Homo sapiens: one gene and its partners. The protein of the gene in region 3 purifies or fractionates together with the protein of the main gene of each other region. This does not show direct contact. Each region holds a gene or a part of one and is shown on either strand. Other genes may lie near its edges.

Region 1 (4,525 bases), on a different chromosome or scaffold from region 3:
CTGACTCACAGAGCAAATCCTCTTATAGATCCTGAAGAAGTTCTCCTCGGAGACGATGCCCACAGGCTGGACCACCACGAGCAGCGTCTGGTGGTCCTCAGCACACTGCATGTAGTCAGGGACGCTCATTTTGAAGTCCCTGTTCAGAGAGAAGAAATGAGGCTGTGAGACACAGAGTCCTGAGTGCTGAGAGCCTACCCTGGGAGGCAGTGACTGTGACCTTCACTACCCAGAGGCAGGGGAAGCCCCAAGGAAAGCCGTGGCATCAACAGGTCTTAGGGCTCTACACGTGGCTGTCGCAGCTCTGATCATAATGCTGTAACTGTTGACCTTCAGTCCCTTGGCCTCAGCATGGAGCTTCTACAGAAATGGGGCTGTTTCTTGTCTTTCTATTCTCACCACCTAACCAGGAGTAGTAAGAGTCAGTGCTCAAAAATGTCTGTTGAGTGAATGAATAAACACGTGTGTAATTGCTCCCCCATCCCCTCAACAGGATATTAAGAAAAATCCACCATGCAATCACATCTGGATTTGAATTCCGGGCTCCCTGGAACTCCTCAGCTACAAAATAGTGGTGATAATAGAACTTGTCTTGGCCGGGCATGGTGGCTCATGCCTGTAATCCTAACACTTTGGAAGGCCGAAGCTGGCGGATCACTTGAGGTCAGGAATTCGAGACCAGCCTGGCCAACATGGTGAAACCCCACCTATACTAAAAATACAAAAATTAGCCGGGTGTGGTGGCACGTGCCTGTAATCCCAGTTACCCAGGAGGCTGAGGCAGGAAAATCACTGGAACCCGGGAGGTGAAAGCTGCAGTGAGCCAAGATTGCGCCACTGCACTCCAGCCTGGGTGACAGAGTGAGACTCCGTCTCAAAAAAAAAAAAAAAAGAGGCGGGGCGCAGTGGCTCACACCTGTAATCCCAGCACTTTGGGAAGCTGAGGCAGGCAGATCACAAGGTCAGAAGATCGAGATCATCCTGGCTAACATGGTGAAACCCCATCTTTACTAAAAATACAAAAAATTAGCCCGGCGTGGTGGCAGGCACCTGTAGTCCCAGCTACTTGGGAGGCTGAGGCAGGAGAATGGCATGAACCAGGGAGGCAGAGCTTGCAGTGAGCCCAGATGGCGCCACTGCACTCCAGCCTGGGCGACAGAGCCAGACTGCATCTCAAAAAAAAAAAAAAAAAAAAAGAATTAAAAGAAAAAGAACTTGCCTTATAAAACTGTATCTAGATTGAGGAGGTTGCGAATGTAAAGGGCCTAGCATTGTGCCTAACATAAAAGGAGAGATTACACAAATATACCACCTTTCCTTTATAAATGGGAGAGTTGCCATAACCTCTCTGAGCCAATTTTGTCAGATATAAAAAGAAAACGTTATTACCTGATTCCCCAGAGCTGGGGAAAAATTAAATTAGATGACCCACGTGAAAGAATCTGGCTCATAGGAGATCCTCAATACATGTTTGTTGAAGGGATTAGTGAACAAACAAACAAATGAACAATCCAATGAATGCTGCCCCCAGCCTACAGACGGTCATGATGGAAATCCCACTGCCTGGAAGTCAGGGCCGATATTCAACTCCCAGCTCTACACGCACGATCTGGGTGACCTGGAGCAAGCCTGTGTGCTTCCCTGAACCCTAGTTTCATTGTGAATAAAAATGAGGATAGTAACACATACCTCAAGGTGTCAGCAAGTCAACATTCTGGTTGTGATAACATACTGTGGTTTTGTAACATGGCACCACGGGGGGAAACTGGGCAAAAGGTATATAGGATCCCTCAGTATTATTTCTGACAAATGCACATGGAGCTACAACTACTATAGTCTCAAATAAAAAGTCTAATTTTTTTAAAGGTTAGGGAGATTAAATGAGCTCTCTGTATCAAATAAGAAAAAGATGCCTCGATACACACCTCCACTGTCCCCATCAGTGGGCTGACACTTCCTGAGGGGATTTGGCCATGGTCCCCATGGCCAGAGGCAGCTGTACCATGAGCTAATGGGGTTCAGCTTCAGGCCCCTTCCATGGCCCTCTATCTAATTTTGCATTTTTAATTTTGTTTTCTTTTTCTTAAATAGGAAGCCCAAAACTGCATAACCTTCAGGTCACCAAAGCCTGACTGCAGAGATCGTGGCAGTAAAACCCTCCCAGGTGACACTAAGATTAAAGTGACATTGCTATAAGACCTCTGTGAAATTCTAATGGCAAGCTTCTCACCTGCACGGAGAGGAGGAGGACTGTGTGTCGGGGGCTATCCTGGACATCACAACCCCACCTCTACAGACTTCAAAAATACACATGGATAGAGAAGTATGAACAAAATTAAATTTTAAAAAAAGGAAACCCTAGCCTCCCAACATGTCTTGCTTCTGCCCAGGATCTAAACGGTTCACAAGTATATTACATGTGTGTGACTCAGCCCAAGTCCCTGACTCCAGTGCTCACGCTCTCAAGGACGACGCCCCACTCTCTCCTGCCCTTTCCCCACAACGATTCCCTAAAGAGTCTTTTCTGCACACAAAAACCACCTTCGAAAGAACCAAAATCACATCACCTTCCAACAAAGAGGCATAAAACCCCTCGGAGGACATATCAAAATACTGAGCGGGGGAGACTGGAGCGCTCATGTTTCTCAAAAGTAGGCACAGGTTTAACAGAAGCTGAGAAACACCGAAGCCTTCATTCTACAGAGGAGGAGAGCGCGGCCCACCGCAGGTAACAAAGGGCCTTATTTTAGAAGTATCATCTCGGCCAGACACGGTGGCTCACACCTGTAATCCCAACACTTTGGGAGACAGAGGCGGGAGGATCACTTGAGGTCAGCAGTTAGAGACCAGCCTGGTCAACATGACAAAACCCCATCTCTATTAAAAATACAAAAATTAGCCAGGAGTGGTAGCACACACCCGCAGTCCCAGCTACTCCAGAGGCTGAGGCAGGAGAATTGCTTGAACTCAGGAGGTGGAGGAGGCAGTGAGCCAAGATCACAACACTGCACTCCAGCCTGGGTAACAGAGCGAGACTCCATCTCAAAAAAATTAATAAATAAAAATGATTTAAAAATAAAAACTATCGTCTCATCTAAAAAGCAGCATAATCAGCCGGGTGTGGTGGCTCACACCTGTAATCCCAGCACTTTGGGAGGCGGAGGCAGGCAGATCACTTGAGGTCAGGAGTTGGAGACCAGCCTGACCAACATGGAGAAACCCGGTCTCTAATAAAAATACAAAAAATTAGCCAGGCGTGGTGGCGCATGCCTGTGATCCCAGCTACTCAGGAGGCTGAGGCAGGAGAATCGCTTGAACCCAGGAGATGGGGGTTGCAGTGAGCCGAGATCACGCCACTGCACTCCAGCCTGGGCAATAAGAGTAAGACTCCCTCTCAAAAAAAAAAAAAAAAAAAACACAACCTGACCTCACACCTGTGATCTCAACACTTTGGGAGGCCAAGTCGAGTGGATCGCCTGAGGTCAGGAGTTCGAGACCAGCCTGGCCAACATGGCAAAACCCTTTCTCTACTAAAAATACAAAAATTAGCCAGGCTTGGTGGCATGCACCTATAATTCCAGCTACTTGGGAGGCTGAGGCACGGGAATCGCTTGAACCCAGGGAGGAGGAGGTTACAGTGAACTGAGATCACACCACTGCACTCCAGCCTGGGTGACAAAGTAAGACTCTTTAAAAAAAAAAAAAAAAAGACACCTGCCACTGAGCCAGTTCTGGTATCTGAGACTAAGCTAATACAGGTATTAAAACAGCAAAAATATGTATCTTCAACTTGGTAGTTCCTCCATAGAGCTACTATAAAACCAGCAATCCAAGAGATCTGAAAACATGTGTCCACACCAGAAACATGTACAGGAATGTACATAGCAGTATTATTCCTCTTTTTCTGAGATGGAGTTTCGCTCTGTCACCCAGGCTGGAGTACAGTGGCAGGATTTCAGCTCACCTCAACCTCTGCCTCCCAGGTTCAAGCGATTCTCATGCCTCGGCCTCCCGGGTAGCTGGGACTACAGGCGTGAGCCACCATGCTCGGCTAATTTTTGTATTTTCCGTGGAGATAGGGTTTTGCCATGTTGTCCAGGCTGGTCTCGAACTCATGATCTCAGGTGATCCACCCGCCTCAGCCTCCCAAAGTGCTGGGATTACAGGCACAACATTATTCTTGTTTTTTGTTTGTTTGTTGTTTTGAGATGGAGTCTCACTCTGTCGCCAGGCTGGAAAGCAGTGGCGCGATCTCGGCTCACTGCAAACTCCGCCTCCCAGGTTCAAGGGATTCTACTGCCTCAGCCTCCCAAGTAGCTGGGACTACAGGCGCCCACCACCATGCCCAGCTAATTTTTGTATTTTTAGTAGAGAGGGGGTTTCACCATGTTGGCCGGGATGGTCTCGATCTCTTGACCTCGTGATCTGCCCGCCTCGGCCTCCCAAAGTGCTGGGATTACAGGCGTGAGCCACCATGCCTGGCCAGGCACAGCATTATTCTTAATAGCTAAGGAGTGAAAACAAC
Region 2 (4,971 bases), on a different chromosome or scaffold from region 3:
TGCTTCCTGATAATGCCGGACTTCTAAAGCTAGAGAAAATCCTCTACAGTCTAGTCTATCCTACCCACTAGGTGAATAGGATAAGTAACGCCTAGGTGAATAGGTAAGTAAGGCCAACTCTGAAGGATTGCTTTGATCATGTAGAGAAGAACTTGAATCCCAACACAGGCTCAGAGGGGAAAGAGCATCTAGATAGATCAGTAATGTCTGCCCTATCGATTAGCATGTCTGTCATGGGCTAGTAATGAAAAGTCAGGAATTAGCATGTCTGTCATGGGCTAGTAATGAAAAGTCAGTATATCTGCCACCCAGTTACCAATTATGAACTAGGCAGATACTCCTCCAACTGGGATCTTTGGATCCTTAGAGACGCATTCTTCATAGACATGCTGGGAATCTAAGAGTTCTCTATGAGAAGTGTTCTAATTTTGTGATTTCTTCATGAAAATAACCCTTAAGATTTTTAAATAAGCAAACATTAGTAGCCAAATTCAGTGTTATCATTTACAGATGTGTTTATGAACACGGTGGAGCCAAGCAGTGTTACTTTACTGGTAACTGGCCAAGAAGAAAACACGGGCAGAATTAATATGTAAATGATTCCCTGTACCAGGTGAAGGGCAAAATGACACCATAATTTTGTAGTAATTAGAATAAAGTGGTGACTGAATTATCATATGGGCCACAGTTGATTAGGCTTGCTAAATTCAAGAGACCCTGAGCTATAGCAGGGTCTCTAAAGTAAGTAAACACTTTTTTTTTACTTGAAAGTAAGTAAACAGTGAGGATCTGTGAAAAATTTTTGCTTTTAAAAGAGAGTCTGTACATTACTCATGGCCTCACCTGTCAGGGATATTTTAAAGAAGATTCATGAATTGGGTGAAAGATTGGATCCGCCATAGGTATACAGACATATACAGTGCATGTATTTGTACATAAACAATGTACAGTATGTATTTAAAAACACATAACAACACAGGCCCCAACACTAATCCTCAGCTTTCACCCACCCATTCTTTTCAACGTGCTCTGAGCTTATCGAGTTCATCTCTGAATCTAACCAAGGTCACAGATGTAAATGCCAGTGGATGCCAGGCAGGTAAAAAATGAGTGAAGCTGATAGGGTATAAGAAAACATTTTCTTGAAATCTTCAGCTTCTTTCTCTCTATATATATATTTTTTCTCAATGTGAACAGAAATGTAAGTACAGGAAATATTTCACTTTTTCCTTAACTTCACTGAAAGAAAACACCATCATGAGTATAAATGGCAACTGTCACCTAATCTCCCCTTGGGGGACTGTGACAGAGAGTGGACGGTGGCAAACTAGAGTTCTTACTCCATTTGAAAGGGAGCTCAGCTCAGCTCCCTTTCATCATCACCCAGCTCCAGCAGGTCGGTAGCTGTCATGTAGGAATTCAGAATTAGTGTTACCAGGTCTCCCAATTTTTAACATATATAAATAATAATAAATAAATAATACGGAAATTTGGATTTTGTGTGGAAGTCTTCCAATTTAAAAATTCTGGCAACAGATTCAATAATTTTTCCCAAACACTGCGCTGGCCAAAAAATAATGTGTCTGCAACTCAGCTGGTTTGCAACTCTGCTCTCAGCTCTCCTTCAAACTGTCTCCCCCGCCTCAGTCCCCCAGAATCTGCAGATCCTCCCCCATCCTCCCGATGGTCCTCCAAGGTCAGCATTCAGGATCCTCAAGGCCAGCCCCACTCCTGCTGACCCCCCTTCTCTGCAACCCTGCGCGGACACTCCGGTTGGCTCTCCATCCTCCACTGCCTCACTCAGCGGTTACCTAACCTCTCCAGGTGTTTGTCCCGGCTCGCGCCTTACTCATTCCTCCAGGTCCCTCTCCAGTCACCAGCGACGCTTGTCAGTTCTCACTAAATATCCCGGGCCGAACAAAGTAAACTGGACCCGATAAAGCACCTCCAAGGAGTAAAAGGAGCAGAGCCTCACACTCGACACGGAATCCCGTCGTGGTTCCAACAACCCGAGCCACCCCAGGGCCGGGCCCTGGATGGACTTGTGCACAGAGCTCCCCCCACGAGCGCGTGGGACCCTGGGGTGCCCGCGGCCTTCCACGCCGGCAGAACAGCAGGGCTCGATGGTGGGGGATGTTCGGAGCGACCAGAAGCCGCGCCGCGCCACCCGGCCGGCCTCCGAGCTGTTTGCGATTTCCTCTCGGGGCTCCTCGTCCTCCTCCCCCTCAGGCCGCCCTCGCACGGCCGCCCGCCTCCACGGGCTTCACCCCTGCCCATCTTCCCGCACACGGGGCCGGGCGACCCTCCCACCTCAGCCCGGGATCGCGAACGGCTAGCGGGTGTCGCCAGGCGGGGAAACGCCGAGGCCGCGGCCGCTCCGGTCCCCCTCCCAGCCGCCGGTTCCCGGGCGCGGCCCCCGCCCGGCCCCGCCATCGCCTTGGCCCCGCAACCTCTCACCCGCCGCGCGGGTCCCGCCCGCGGCCGTGGCCGCCCCCGCCCGCGCCGGCCCGGGCCCTCACCCGCGACAGGGTGAGGTCGGTCATGAGCTGCTCGAAGGCCCGCGTCTCCTCGGCCTGTCTCTGCGTGTGCAGCGCGATCTTCTCACTGAACTTCCGCGGGTTGGCGCTGCCCGAGCCCGGCGAGGCGGCCATGGCGCGGACTCTGCGCGGGCAGAAGCGGGAGACGGCGGCCGTGGGGCCTGTACCTCGGCCCACCCGTCCGTCCACAGGCCGCCGGGGCCGCCGCCCGAAGCCAGTCGTCCGGCGCGACCCGGCAGAGGAGCCGCCGCGGCCCCGGAGCCAGCGAGCGGCCGGGAGCGCGCCGAGGTCCGCCCCCGTGCGCCCGGCCCCGCCCCACCCTCGGCGGGGCCCGCCCGGCCTCCAGTCTGCCCCGGCCCCACGCTCGCGGGCTGAGGGCTGCTCCCCGCTTCCCGGTCTGGCTCGGGACCCGCCGCCGGCGGCCACCTGGAGGGACCCCCGTCAGCCCGACAAAGTGGCCCCGGCGTACGGGGAACGCTGGGGTGCCACTCCACGGAGACTCTCCGACCCAGGGATGGCCTCTGCGTCTACGCGACGTGGAGAACACAGCCTGTGCCCGCATCCCCCCTCCCCCAGCCAAATTACGAAGATTTTCTTCTCCAGGTGGAACCTGGGCGACCGGACCTCGAGCAGGTCACCTCGGGCCCCCGCAGGGGGTGCGCCCATTTTGCCTGGGGCCTAACGTCTGCCCGCCAGCCCTGCCGCTCCAGGCCCCCGGCCTCCAGCCGCTGGTTTCCTGACCTCTCACACCCACCCCTCCCCGCTCCAGTCAACCAGAGCTGTATCTCGGCTTTAAAAACTGCCTCCTATTCTGCACAAACTACAAACACCATCCAGCCCTGCTGCAGCCTTGGCTCCATAGCCCCGGCCCCCTTTCCAGGTTCTTTCCAAGTCTCCCTACGGCCTCTCCACTCCTGTGGCAGCTTCAGCAGGTGCCAGCCCCACCTTGGGAAACCAGCGCTCAGCCTCAGCGAATTTCCCCTTCTTTTGGGGGAGTGAATGGATGTCTTTCTCTGTCGCCCGGTCTGGAGTGTAGTGGTGCGATCTCGACTCACCGCGGCCTTGACCTCCCGGGCTCAAAAGATCCTCCCACCTCAGCCTCCCGACCAGCTGGGACCACAGGCGGGGGTCACCACGCCCGGCTAGTTTGTAAATGTTTTTGTAGCAATGGGGGGCGGGGGTGGGTCTCGCTATTTTGCCCAGGCTGGTCTCGAACGCCTGGGCTCAAGCGATCTGCCCACCTCAGCCTCCCAAAGTGCTGGGATAACAGGCGTGGGCCACAGTGCCCGGGGAGTTTCCTCTTTGGAGTCCAGAAGCTACTCTCAGCATAAATGTTGATGTGCACAAAGATGTCCCGGGGAGCCCTGAGCGTGTGTCAGTGTTCTGTAAAGAGGGAAATATTAGAGGCCTACGGAAGAGTACGGAAAATAATATTAATACTACCCACGCCCCCCACTATCAAGATTAAACAGACATCAATACATTTTGCTGCATGTACTTGGGATTTATTAAAGACATACAAAATTAGTCATAACGACGGCCCCACTCTCATTTCTTCTTCCGCCCCACAGATAGTCACCGTGCTCAAGTTGGTACATATCATTCCAGTTTGTGTTTTTATACTTTTATTACATATGATGTAGAGATCCAGCAATGCTATATGGAATACCTAATTTTGTTTTTAAACTTTACAAAAATGACACCATACTGAATAATCATTTTGCATCTTTTTTCATTCTCCATTATGTTTTCGAGATATATTTGTGTCAATTCATTTATATGATAATATTCCATTATGTTTTTCACCTGTCTCTCAGACATAGCCTATAACTGGACTTTTTAGAAAATGTATTCTGAAAATATATCTCTGTTAGCTAGAATTTAGCTATTTTTATTAATTATAATTGGATTTTTTTTTCTGTTGTATTTTGTGTTATTTACCATGCTTTTTTTTTGTTGTTGGTTTGTTTTTGAGACGGAGTCTTGCTCTGTTACCCAGGCTGGAGTGCAGTGGCCTGATCTCAGCTCACTGCAAACTCTGCCTCTTGAGTTCAAGTGATTCTTGTGCCTCAGCCTCCCGAGTAACTGGGATTACAGGCTTGCGCCACCATGCCCGGCTAGTTTTTTTTTTTTTTTTTAAGACAGAGTCGCGCTCTGTCGCCCAGGCTGGAGTGCAGTGGTGCAATCTCGGCTCACTGCAATCTCTGCCTCCTGGGTTCAAGCTATTCTCCTGCCTCAGCCTCCTGAGTAGCTGGGATTACAGGTACACGCCACCACGCAGGCTAATTTTTTGTATTTTTTGTAGAGACGAGGTTTCACCATGTTGGTCAGGCTGGTCTCAAACTGCTGATCACAGGTGATCCACCTGTCTCGGCTTCCCAAAATGCTGGGATTGCAGGCGTGAGCCACCGCGCCTAGCATTTTTCTTTACATT
Region 3 (5,056 bases):
GTAGGTATAATGAAAAAATTAAGGCATAATGGGGGCAATCTGAGAAATTAGTGTCAGAGTAGACAGACATAAACCACTGCATCAAGGTTCAATCTCCTGTAAGCAAAAGAAAGAAACGATTTGACTTGTACTGTAATGCAATCTAGTATAGTCAGTTTCCTTTTTATGCGATTCTATTACATAATAGTTACTATCTTCTTTTTAATGGCCTTTTATTCCTGGTCACTAGAGTCTAGTTTTTTCTTTCATTTTCTTACTTGCCCACCCAACTTTCACATAACTGTCATAAAGAGGAAGAAGGGTGTAAGATAATTACAATCTTAGTAATTTTGAAATTATGCTTTGCCTAATATTTTCTTTCATTGATAATAACTTATTTTCCACATATATTAAGTTCTCCCTCCCCCCATTTTTTTTAAATTATGGGAAGAAGCAAAGAAATGAACAAACATATATAGCACACTTTAAACAGAACTGTTACTTAAATAACTGAAAACGCATTGACATAATCATTTTTATTTGATTTAATTGATAAATAAATACAAGAGAACTGTTGTGAAACCACTGGCAATATAGTAAATTTTAAAGATTTTATTTCAACTTCACTCACTTATATTTCTTGGAATGGGGATATATACATTATTCACCAATAAATGCTAATGCTTTAAATTTACAATTACCCTATTTGTAGAAACCTGAAGATCATTCCAATTAAATGAAAAAAAATTGTACAAAAACGTTCTTTTGCTCTTACAATTCAAAATACATTCAAATTCACATTCTTACAGCAGCCAAAACCTTTAACCCAAAATTCAGAACTGCAGTCCTACAAGTGAACAAACTAGTGTTTTAATTTAATTATCATGATTGTTGTTAACACTGAAAAAAAAACATGGTGGCTCCTGAAACAAGACAGGTTAGCAACTGGTACAGCTTTCCCTTCTGGGCACTCAAAGCTTTGCCCTTGATTATTATTTTTATTTCATCTTTTCAAACACAGACAATTGCTCCAACTTGAAAGTTTCAATGGAATTTTGGCATTTAATATTGCTAATGCTTGCTAAGATTTAAGATCTCCCAATGATGAGAATCAGAAAATGACGCACGACTAAATTAAAATCATCCTAAAAGACTTACTACATAGTGGTATCTGGTATTCAATATCAATAGTGTTTTTGAATTACATGATATGTTTTTCACAAACATAGCACCTCATCAAATATCTGGTAAACACTTTGCAATCACAATAAGTGTTGGGAGACCAAGTTCCAAAGACAATTATGTGATTCACTTAAAGGTAACATTGTAAGACAAGTCTCAGGCATAATGAAGATTAGGAATGCAGTCTGCTGGTTCCCATGATCTAAAGGGATGCTCACCTATATGGGCACCATCCTATTAAGACGTGGTAATATGTTTCCAAACCAAAAAAAGTCGGTAAGTGTTAAAATGGACTCCTGCTTTATAAATGATCTGTTAAATGTACTTGTAAAATTAAAAAAATTTCCAAAATGTCAAAAGAGATATGATTATTGTATCTCATTATTCCAAGTAATTCTGTTAAAAAGATACTAAATGAAGTCCAATTTTATCTTGTAAAGTTTTAGTGTAAAAACTAATGTACTGAAATTCAGTAAAGTTTAACTTTCATCTAAATGTAACGAAACAACTATTCATTTTGGTGAGTTTTCACAAGCTGTACTCCTGACCTGAAGAATCACTTTTTTTATGCCGAGGAGATGGAGTAGTCTTTGTAGGAGATGGGGACGCAGTACCAGGTGAGTCAGTTCCTCCATCGGAAGTACTTGGTGATGACGCCAGATAGGGAACTTTCTTTCTTCCAAGGAATCCTCCCCCTTCAAATCCTCCTTTCTTCCTAAACTCTATTTTATTTTCATTTTCATCTTCTGATGACCTTTTCTTGGATTCTGAAAAACCTTCAGCTATTTTATGCACTTCCAATCCACTATCCAATTCTCTCAAACTTTTTATTTCTACTCCAGGAGACTTTCTCTCAGATATATTACATTCCCCTGTTGCCCCTTTCACTTCAGCTTGTATTGGACCCAAGTTACCATTTTCAGGGACAGCTCTTTCTACATTTCTGTTCAAATTAATAGTCTGGAAGTCCCTATAACTGTGAAAGCTCTCAGTCCTTCTTGCCCTTGCTAATAAAGGACTTTCTCTGTAAGGCCTCATGGAACCGTAAGTAGCTGCTTCATGGGTGGTATCATGGTGCTGAAGCTGAAGGCTGAAATACAGTTTTTAAAAATGACAGTTCAGATTTCACTCTGTGATTTCTCAGGAACATATTAATTATACAACCAATAAAACACACTATATAAATACATAAAGTGTATTATATCCATATTTCTCTTTGTAAAAATATACTTATCAAGTACTCTTTATTATATAGATGGTATATAAAATTACCAATGCAAATAATACCATCATATATTCACAGACATGCTGAATTTTTGAACAGCTAAAAAAAAGATGGGAGGAAAAATCCTTGAAACCAATGTGAAACCATCATAATTCAGTATTTAGCCCTTGGTTCTTCAGACTTTGGAATTTATCAATATGATAACTAAAAAGACATTATGGAACTTTGTATTAAAATTACATAATGCTTAAATGTAAGACTAGACAACATAATAGAACCACAGATAAATATTGTCCCTGAGACAGGACAATAATTAAAGCTTCACATACTAACCAAGGTGACATGTAATTTTCCTAATTTCCTTTGAATAAATTCTTGATCACATAATAGGCTTCCAATTGGGCAGCAATTCACAAAATAAGTTAAAAGGTAAAAATGTTTTTCTATGAAAAGAACCAGATATGCCTATCAAGAAATTTGGTAAAACTGTTAAAAAGTTAACATAATGTCTGAATTTAAAATGTACCTTGAGAAGTATGGCTTTCTAGAACAACTATGTGATTACAATATTTCAGTCAATTTCCCCAAAAGAAATAAATTTTGTTTATAATACCCAACTCTTTAACCTACCTAGAATTTGATTCTCGTAAGTGGCTATGCTGAACTACGGAAGTTGCTGGACTGATGTTAGGAGTAGCACAGCGAGATGTGCTCAAATCACATTGATCGAGTAATTTGAGTAGCTCTTCTTCGGTTGGACCACCTACATCTTAGGAGAACAAATAGTCATTAAAATCACTTAAGTGAAAAGCTTAACCTTGTGACAAACATCTTTCTGTATGAGAACCTACCCTTATCTTCACTTTTGTTAACCATATCCATAGCAGTGGTCAGATCCCACATTTGAATACTGCCATTTGTATGGCCTGTGAACAAGTAGCGCCTTGGTCTTGAGCCCATCCTACTGGATCCCTCACATTCCCTCACTGTAAATGAGGATATTGTAGTACAGTCAACAGCCTGGATCTCACATATTCTGCAAAAGAAAAGCAGAAAGAGCCCTGATGGGAATGAGCAATTATTTAAAAAGAAGCTATGAAACTAAAAAGACAGAAAGAAAGAAAGCAAACATGTTATACTAGAAAAGACTTTTAAAAAATCATTTAAAATTTATGTGTAAATCTTTAAAATCTGAAACCAGAAAAAATATACAGCTCTATGGAGATGGCCCATATTGTATCCATCATTAGGATAATACTCAACTTCAAAAAAAGATTTTTATGACTTTTTAGTTGATTTTCATAAAAGATAAAAGAACCTGAGAGAGAACAATTTTTATCCACATTGACGGATCAGGAAACAATGGGATAACATCAGCAAATGATTGTTCCAAAGTCACGTAAGGGCTAACTGAATTGTACTTGACTGAATTAGTTATCCCAGCCTACTTCAAAAGAGTTGAGGGAGTTTATTAAAAAAGAAAAATCAGTATAGGCAAACGCAAGGTCAAAAAAATAGACAAAAAAAAATACAATCCACATGAATTTGAGAAGCATACAGGAATAGAATATGAAGCTTAGATGAGCTTCCTAGTAGGCCGGACAAAAAGGAGGGAAAAAGATAATTCCTACATGCCCACATGTAGTGATAAAGACTATCCTAGTCTCATTCTTGAGCTCAAGGTTTGTGAATACAGGAATAAACAAACCAAAGTATTTTTCCTGTACTCTCATGCAACAATCAACTCTAAGGAAAGTGAAAGTTTACCTCCAAATGCCCTTTTAGTTATGTGGGCTCTTGGCTGGATCTAGAAACCAAACTGACACCACACAGACTGACAAGAGAGAAGCATATACATTTTATTAGTTTTACATGTACATGGGAATCTTCACAAGAGAGTGAGGTCCAAAGAAGTGGCCACAGCAAGATGCTTTTATACAATTCAGACAAAGAATGATAAACTGTAGAACAAATGACAGGATAAAGAAAATCTGACTAGAGGCAGTAAATTTCTAAGGGAGTCACTAGAAGATATACATATATATTATATATATTTAATATATATTACGTATATACTAAATATATGTAATATATATTTAATATATATTAAATATGTATTATATATATACATTATATATATATATAGTGGGACAATGTAAAACTAGTGGAAGGTAAGCATATTCACTCAGGTCCACTGCAGCCCCCAGTTCCCACTCTCCTGTCCTGGTACAGGGAGGATAAAACTCCGAGAAAATCTTTTGGCTTGCTGCATGTAGGAAGAGAGAGGTCAGCTATCCCCTTCTGAAATGACAATTTCTCTAATGTTTTCACCTCAAAATAATCAATATACCAATTTGGCCTATTTTGGGGCAGAATGTCCTTCACTCCTTGGCAAAAAAAAGGGTTCTGTGACCAAATGGGGTGGAGGGGTTCACCAAACACCAAGCAAGCAGTCGATTCTGCAGCAGACACCAGCTAAGTGTCCTCTAACTCAATTTAATTCTGACACTATCTGTCATATCACACGGGTAGAAGACTCGGTCTCACAAAGCTGAGCCCCACTTCAGAGGCTGATCACAAGCCTCAGGTTATTTTGCCTGTGCTTCTAACTGACTGACTGTAAATCAGGGTTCCCACAGCCTCCTCCTTAGGTTCAACTAATTTGCTAGA
Region 4 (4,525 bases), on a different chromosome or scaffold from region 3:
GAACAGAGAAATTCTAAATATTACTAAGAGAAAAGGCTACACTTTTGCAAACGTAATTTAGTGATTCTGGATTATTCAGTCTTTGGAAGGATGTGATTTCTTATACAATAGTAAAGAAATTCAGTACTTTTGGGCAAAGTAAACAGTGAAGAAATTCAAATTCTTAAGTGCTCTGAGCCTCCTGTGCTTAAAAAAACAAAACAAACAAAAAACAAACAAAAAAAACTACTGTGGGACTATAAGAATAGAACTTATTCTTAATACTTGCATGTATTTTTTACCTTCCACACTAGTGGGCATTAAAATGCTGTATAAAATTCAAATACTTGGTGATCTGATCACTAAAGAAGCCCCACAGCTATTTTTTCTAAGAGTAAGTTGTTCCTGTTGCTTAAAAGTTCCTAAGAAAAAGGAACTGAGTAATAAGCTTGTGAAAAGTGATTTAAAGTTAGGCAGTTTCTCTGTTAAACAGCTTCCCAAATTCTTTAACATATTAATGTGTAGTGGGAATCTCCAAAAAGGAAATATAAAATGTTTCCCAAACTTACTACTATTTGGTCAACTTAATTTAACCCAACCTCCATATCCCAACTGTTTTTTTAGTACACCTATCTAGATTACAATATCTAAGTGTAGCTTGGAAGAAAACATTCACATTCTCAAATACAGAGTTGTATTTGAGGAGGGGAAGGACCGTTCATGGACTTTTTCAAATTGTGACACACTCTAAATCACTTGTGAAACTGACACTGATTAGTCACCTGAAGTAATTGAGGATTCTCTCGACCTATCTGCTGTAGTAACGCTGGAAGCAAGGAAGGATTCTGCTGAATAATTTGTCTCATCTGTTGAAACTGAGGCTGATTCCGTAAAAATTCAAGGGGATGTCCTAAAATACACATAAACATTTCTAAACAAAAGCAGTAAATACATACACAAACAGTGGTTAAATAATACATTTAGACAGCAAACACTATCAAAGAAAAAATGATTTGAGTTCTCAGATGTAATAAAATGAAGTAAATAATGATGAAATCTTCCAACTGTACCAACTTGCAAGTTTTATACGGCAAAAATTACTCCTATTAGCAAAGGCAGGGAGTGCAGAACGCTGACTGTAATATGAACCAAACTTTCCTATAATTGCCCTTGGCACTCAACGTTATAAAATAATACTAGAAACTTGTCTCCTGTGTGTGTTCTATCAAAATAAAAAGTACTAAAAGTTGTTCCTGTTGCTTAAAAGTTCCTAAGAAAAATATACACCACAACAAAAACAAAAACTCACTTACTTTATAAACAATGAAAACCCCTAAAAGAACACAATCTGAGCTTGAATTCCTAGGAATTCAAGAAACCAAAGAAGAAAAAGATATTTAAAGTCTGAGGTCAGGTTTTGCAAATCAGGAGAAACTTTAATCCAAACTTACATTAAGGAAGACTTCCGGTTATTACCATTAATTTTCAAACATTTGTGAACTACAAAAACTCGGATAAATAAGCTGTATGGCAATCTAGTACTAATATATCTAAACTCTTCAGTCTAAAATCCATTCACAATAATAAATGTTAATAATGCCAAATAAAATATAAAATACAGAACTTCTGGCTTTTTCAGGGTGCTGGTACTTGTCTGGTTATGCTATAGGAAACCAAAAATCGTACATACAGGAATTGTTTTTGAGGTTACTAATGAATAAAAGAGAATTTTTAGATGTATGTTGTAATTTCCTATTCAGGAAGACAATCATTCCAATTGAAATGACCACAGCACATGGGTTTTTTGTTCTTCCATATATAATACCAGCTTTACAGGTGAAGGCAACGAGACTTAGAGACTATGTCACCTAATAAGTGCTGAAAGGAACAGGACCCCAAATCCAAAGCAGAGCTGTGGTCATCTCTTTCCACTCCCATATGCTGAATCACAACAAACAAAGGGCCTGTCCTTGGGAGACTGTACACAAAGCACTGAGTGACCTTTGTCAACCAGAGGTGACTATCATTATCAGAGCTAGGAAATGCATGGAAGAATGGCCTTTTCAAGATCAACAGTTTAAATTACTTTATTAATATACAGAAGAACGAACGAAGGAGAACACTGCGTAATTCCTAAGCTGACCGCAGGTTCCAGGCTTTGCTCTGTAGTCAGACCTATAGCAATGTGTGGGGTATGGTCAGCACCCCAGTAAAGAGACTTCAATTCAAGCTTTGCTTTCTCCTCTAGATACAAGGTTTTAAACCTCTCACGGTTTCATTTCCTTGGCTGTATAATTACTAAAATCCTGCTGGCTTTGAAATTACATACACTTTGTAACATTTATGGAGAGAGTAAGAGACAAAGTGAGCAAACCATTCTGAATGGCATCAGAAAGTAACACTAAATACAAACTGGAAAGCATCTTTTCCTTAAAACAAATAAAACAGAATATGCCCTTCGGCAAAACTGCAACACTGATGTTTAATATCAGCAAGGATACCTTTTACATCCACTTGGGAAAGTTTCTTTTGGGCCTTTCTCAAACATTAGTGAAGAGAGAACTTAACGAATTATTCGACTGCTCTGGGAATGAACGTCATTTCTGAAGTATTTCAGGTTAAATTATTTTACACTAAAAATTCAGGGCCATTCCCTCCCCATCCAGAAGATTCCGCTTTACCTCCAGAACTTGTTGTTGTAGTTGTTGCTGTCGTAGTTGCTGCAGCTGCAGCCACTGCTGAAGACTGAGGAGCCCCAGTACTAGCTGCTTGAGGGGGGTCAACCACAGCCTGACTTTCTCTATCTCCAGGGATTCCCTGTAATAGAATTTCCAAGCTTTAAGATATCCCATCATGCAAAATTAAATATTATACAGAGTAAAAGATTTATAGTCTATTTAACATCTTGTTTGATTTTCAAAAGCATCAAACAGATGTCTGCTTCAATTAAAAGTAAAGGATTATTAAGCTGCATGGATTCAAATTAGATTAGAAATGACCTGGGTGCATTATAGAAAAACCCACATTGCTATAATAATGCAAAGCAGCACTGTCCAACAGAACTTACCATGATGATGGAAATATTCTCTGTGTTGTTCAATAAGACACCTACCAGGCACACGTAATTAGCATCAAATTTGAAAAATATTGATACATGTACCTTCTTAAAACTGAACACAACCAAAGGTTTTTGTGCTACCTATTAGTTCAGTTGACTTTTTAACTTCTTAGAAATCTTTATCAGCTGTTACTCAGTGATAAAAAGGATTGAGTTTGCAACTCTAGCTTAAGATAATCCAAAAAGAGGTTTTGATGCACACTTGACAGTTCTGAAATGACTCCTGGGGGAAAAAATATCTAATGGATACAGACCAGGTACACAGTGGCCAGGCAGGAGGATCTCCCCTACTGATCCATGGTACTGAGAAAGTGTCACTCAGAAAGTATCTCATAAATTTGAGGTACTTTTCAGTGAAGTGTTTCTTAAAGTGTCAAAGTATCTCATAAATGAGATACTTAAAGTATCTCATAAATGAGATACTTAAAGTATCTCAAAAAATGAGATAAAGTATCTCAAAAAATTTAATTTTTCAAAATTCATAAAATCGATATAAAAGAAATTGAAACCATTTAGTTTTTAGGTGATGCCTTTTGTAAGTTTATAGTACTTATCTTTTAAAGTTATTAAGAGCTTAAAACTGCATGCACTAAACTCTTTTGGGACACCTATTTTGATGCACATGATTGATAGACTTGTCATTTAAAATTTTTAAAAAGTCTTTATCAAGTTCTTATAGATTTTGAAGAGAATAAAGAACCAAGTATTACAATTGAATAAGATGATAAATGCTTCCATTCCCTAATAAACCAGAAGCCAAAAGCAACAACATATAAAGGATGAAGAGTAACACAGCAGGAAAATGGCTGCATGGATTAGATGTCACTCCAGGCATTAAAACCAATGTTTTTGAATGAGTTAACCAACGCAAACCCTTAACTCAGATGGGCAGTTATTTAAGTGCTAACAAACTACATACAAATTTAGGATCCAGGGCGTCCATCAAATTCTCTTTTATTAAACTAAAAAGTTCATCTTTATTGCTATAGATCGACCTCTATTCTCACACATTACATAGCCTCTTATATAAATGCTCAACATTTCTTCTTTCCATCCGTTCACCTTAACCTATCTCTTAACTAGTAACAGTTAAAAGCAACTTTTCCCCTTCAGTCTATGAAACAAAGAGCAAATATATAAAAAACATTTTAGTTATAAATTGTTTTTGATGAACTCATGTATCATCTATTTATTTGCATTTGATGCTCTACAGCAGTTTTAGCATTTGGTAACAATGATTCTGTATTTTTATACCTCAAAACTCCACATCTATTAGATCAAAATAACTGATACTGTTGAACTTATACAGAATTCTAAATCAGGTGTAAATGAAAGCCACTCCATAAAAGCTAATACTTTTATACAATCTGTTTAGGGTACACACTCCTCACCAAACAAATTCACAACAATTATTAATTCCACAATTCC

What was found. The genes of interacting proteins can lie anywhere in the genome.
Region 1: the proteins of KCTD3 (region 3) and TRAPPC9 purify together in Homo sapiens (affinity purification with mass spectrometry; 2 studies listed by BioGRID and IntAct, with this or other methods). This does not show direct contact.
Region 2: the proteins of KCTD3 (region 3) and CRTC3 purify together in Homo sapiens (affinity purification with mass spectrometry, with the first as the bait; one large-scale study listed by BioGRID). This does not show direct contact.
Region 4: the proteins of KCTD3 (region 3) and RAD23B purify together in Homo sapiens (affinity purification with mass spectrometry; 2 studies listed by BioGRID and IntAct, with this or other methods). This does not show direct contact.

The regions. Positions count from the first base shown.
Region 1 is NC_000008.11:140,451,245-140,455,769, forward strand, and holds part of TRAPPC9 (trafficking protein particle complex subunit 9), read right to left. Parts: intron 140-4,525; coding exon of another isoform or gene 130-139; coding exon 1-129. UniProt on the Homo sapiens protein: Functions as an activator of NF-kappa-B through increased phosphorylation of the IKK complex. May function in neuronal cells differentiation. May play a role in vesicular transport from endoplasmic reticulum to Golgi.
Region 2 is NC_000015.10:90,527,752-90,532,722, reverse strand, and holds the start of CRTC3 (CREB-regulated transcription coactivator 3), read right to left. Parts: upstream 2,801-4,971; 5' UTR 2,652-2,800; coding exon 2,520-2,651; intron 1-2,519. UniProt on the Homo sapiens protein: Transcriptional coactivator for CREB1 which activates transcription through both consensus and variant cAMP response element (CRE) sites.
Region 3 is NC_000001.11:215,617,252-215,622,307, reverse strand, and holds the end of KCTD3 (BTB/POZ domain-containing protein KCTD3), read right to left. Parts: intron 3,423-5,056; coding exon 3,238-3,422; intron 3,156-3,237; coding exon 3,017-3,155; intron 2,252-3,016; coding exon 1,690-2,251; 3' UTR 501-1,689; downstream 1-500. UniProt on the Homo sapiens protein: Accessory subunit of potassium/sodium hyperpolarization-activated cyclic nucleotide-gated channel 3 (HCN3) up-regulating its cell-surface expression and current density without affecting its voltage dependence and kinetics.
Region 4 is NC_000009.12:107,320,254-107,324,778, reverse strand, and holds part of RAD23B (UV excision repair protein RAD23 homolog B), read right to left. Parts: intron 2,797-4,525; coding exon 2,661-2,796; intron 890-2,660; coding exon 762-889; intron 1-761. UniProt on the Homo sapiens protein: Multiubiquitin chain receptor involved in modulation of proteasomal degradation. Binds to polyubiquitin chains.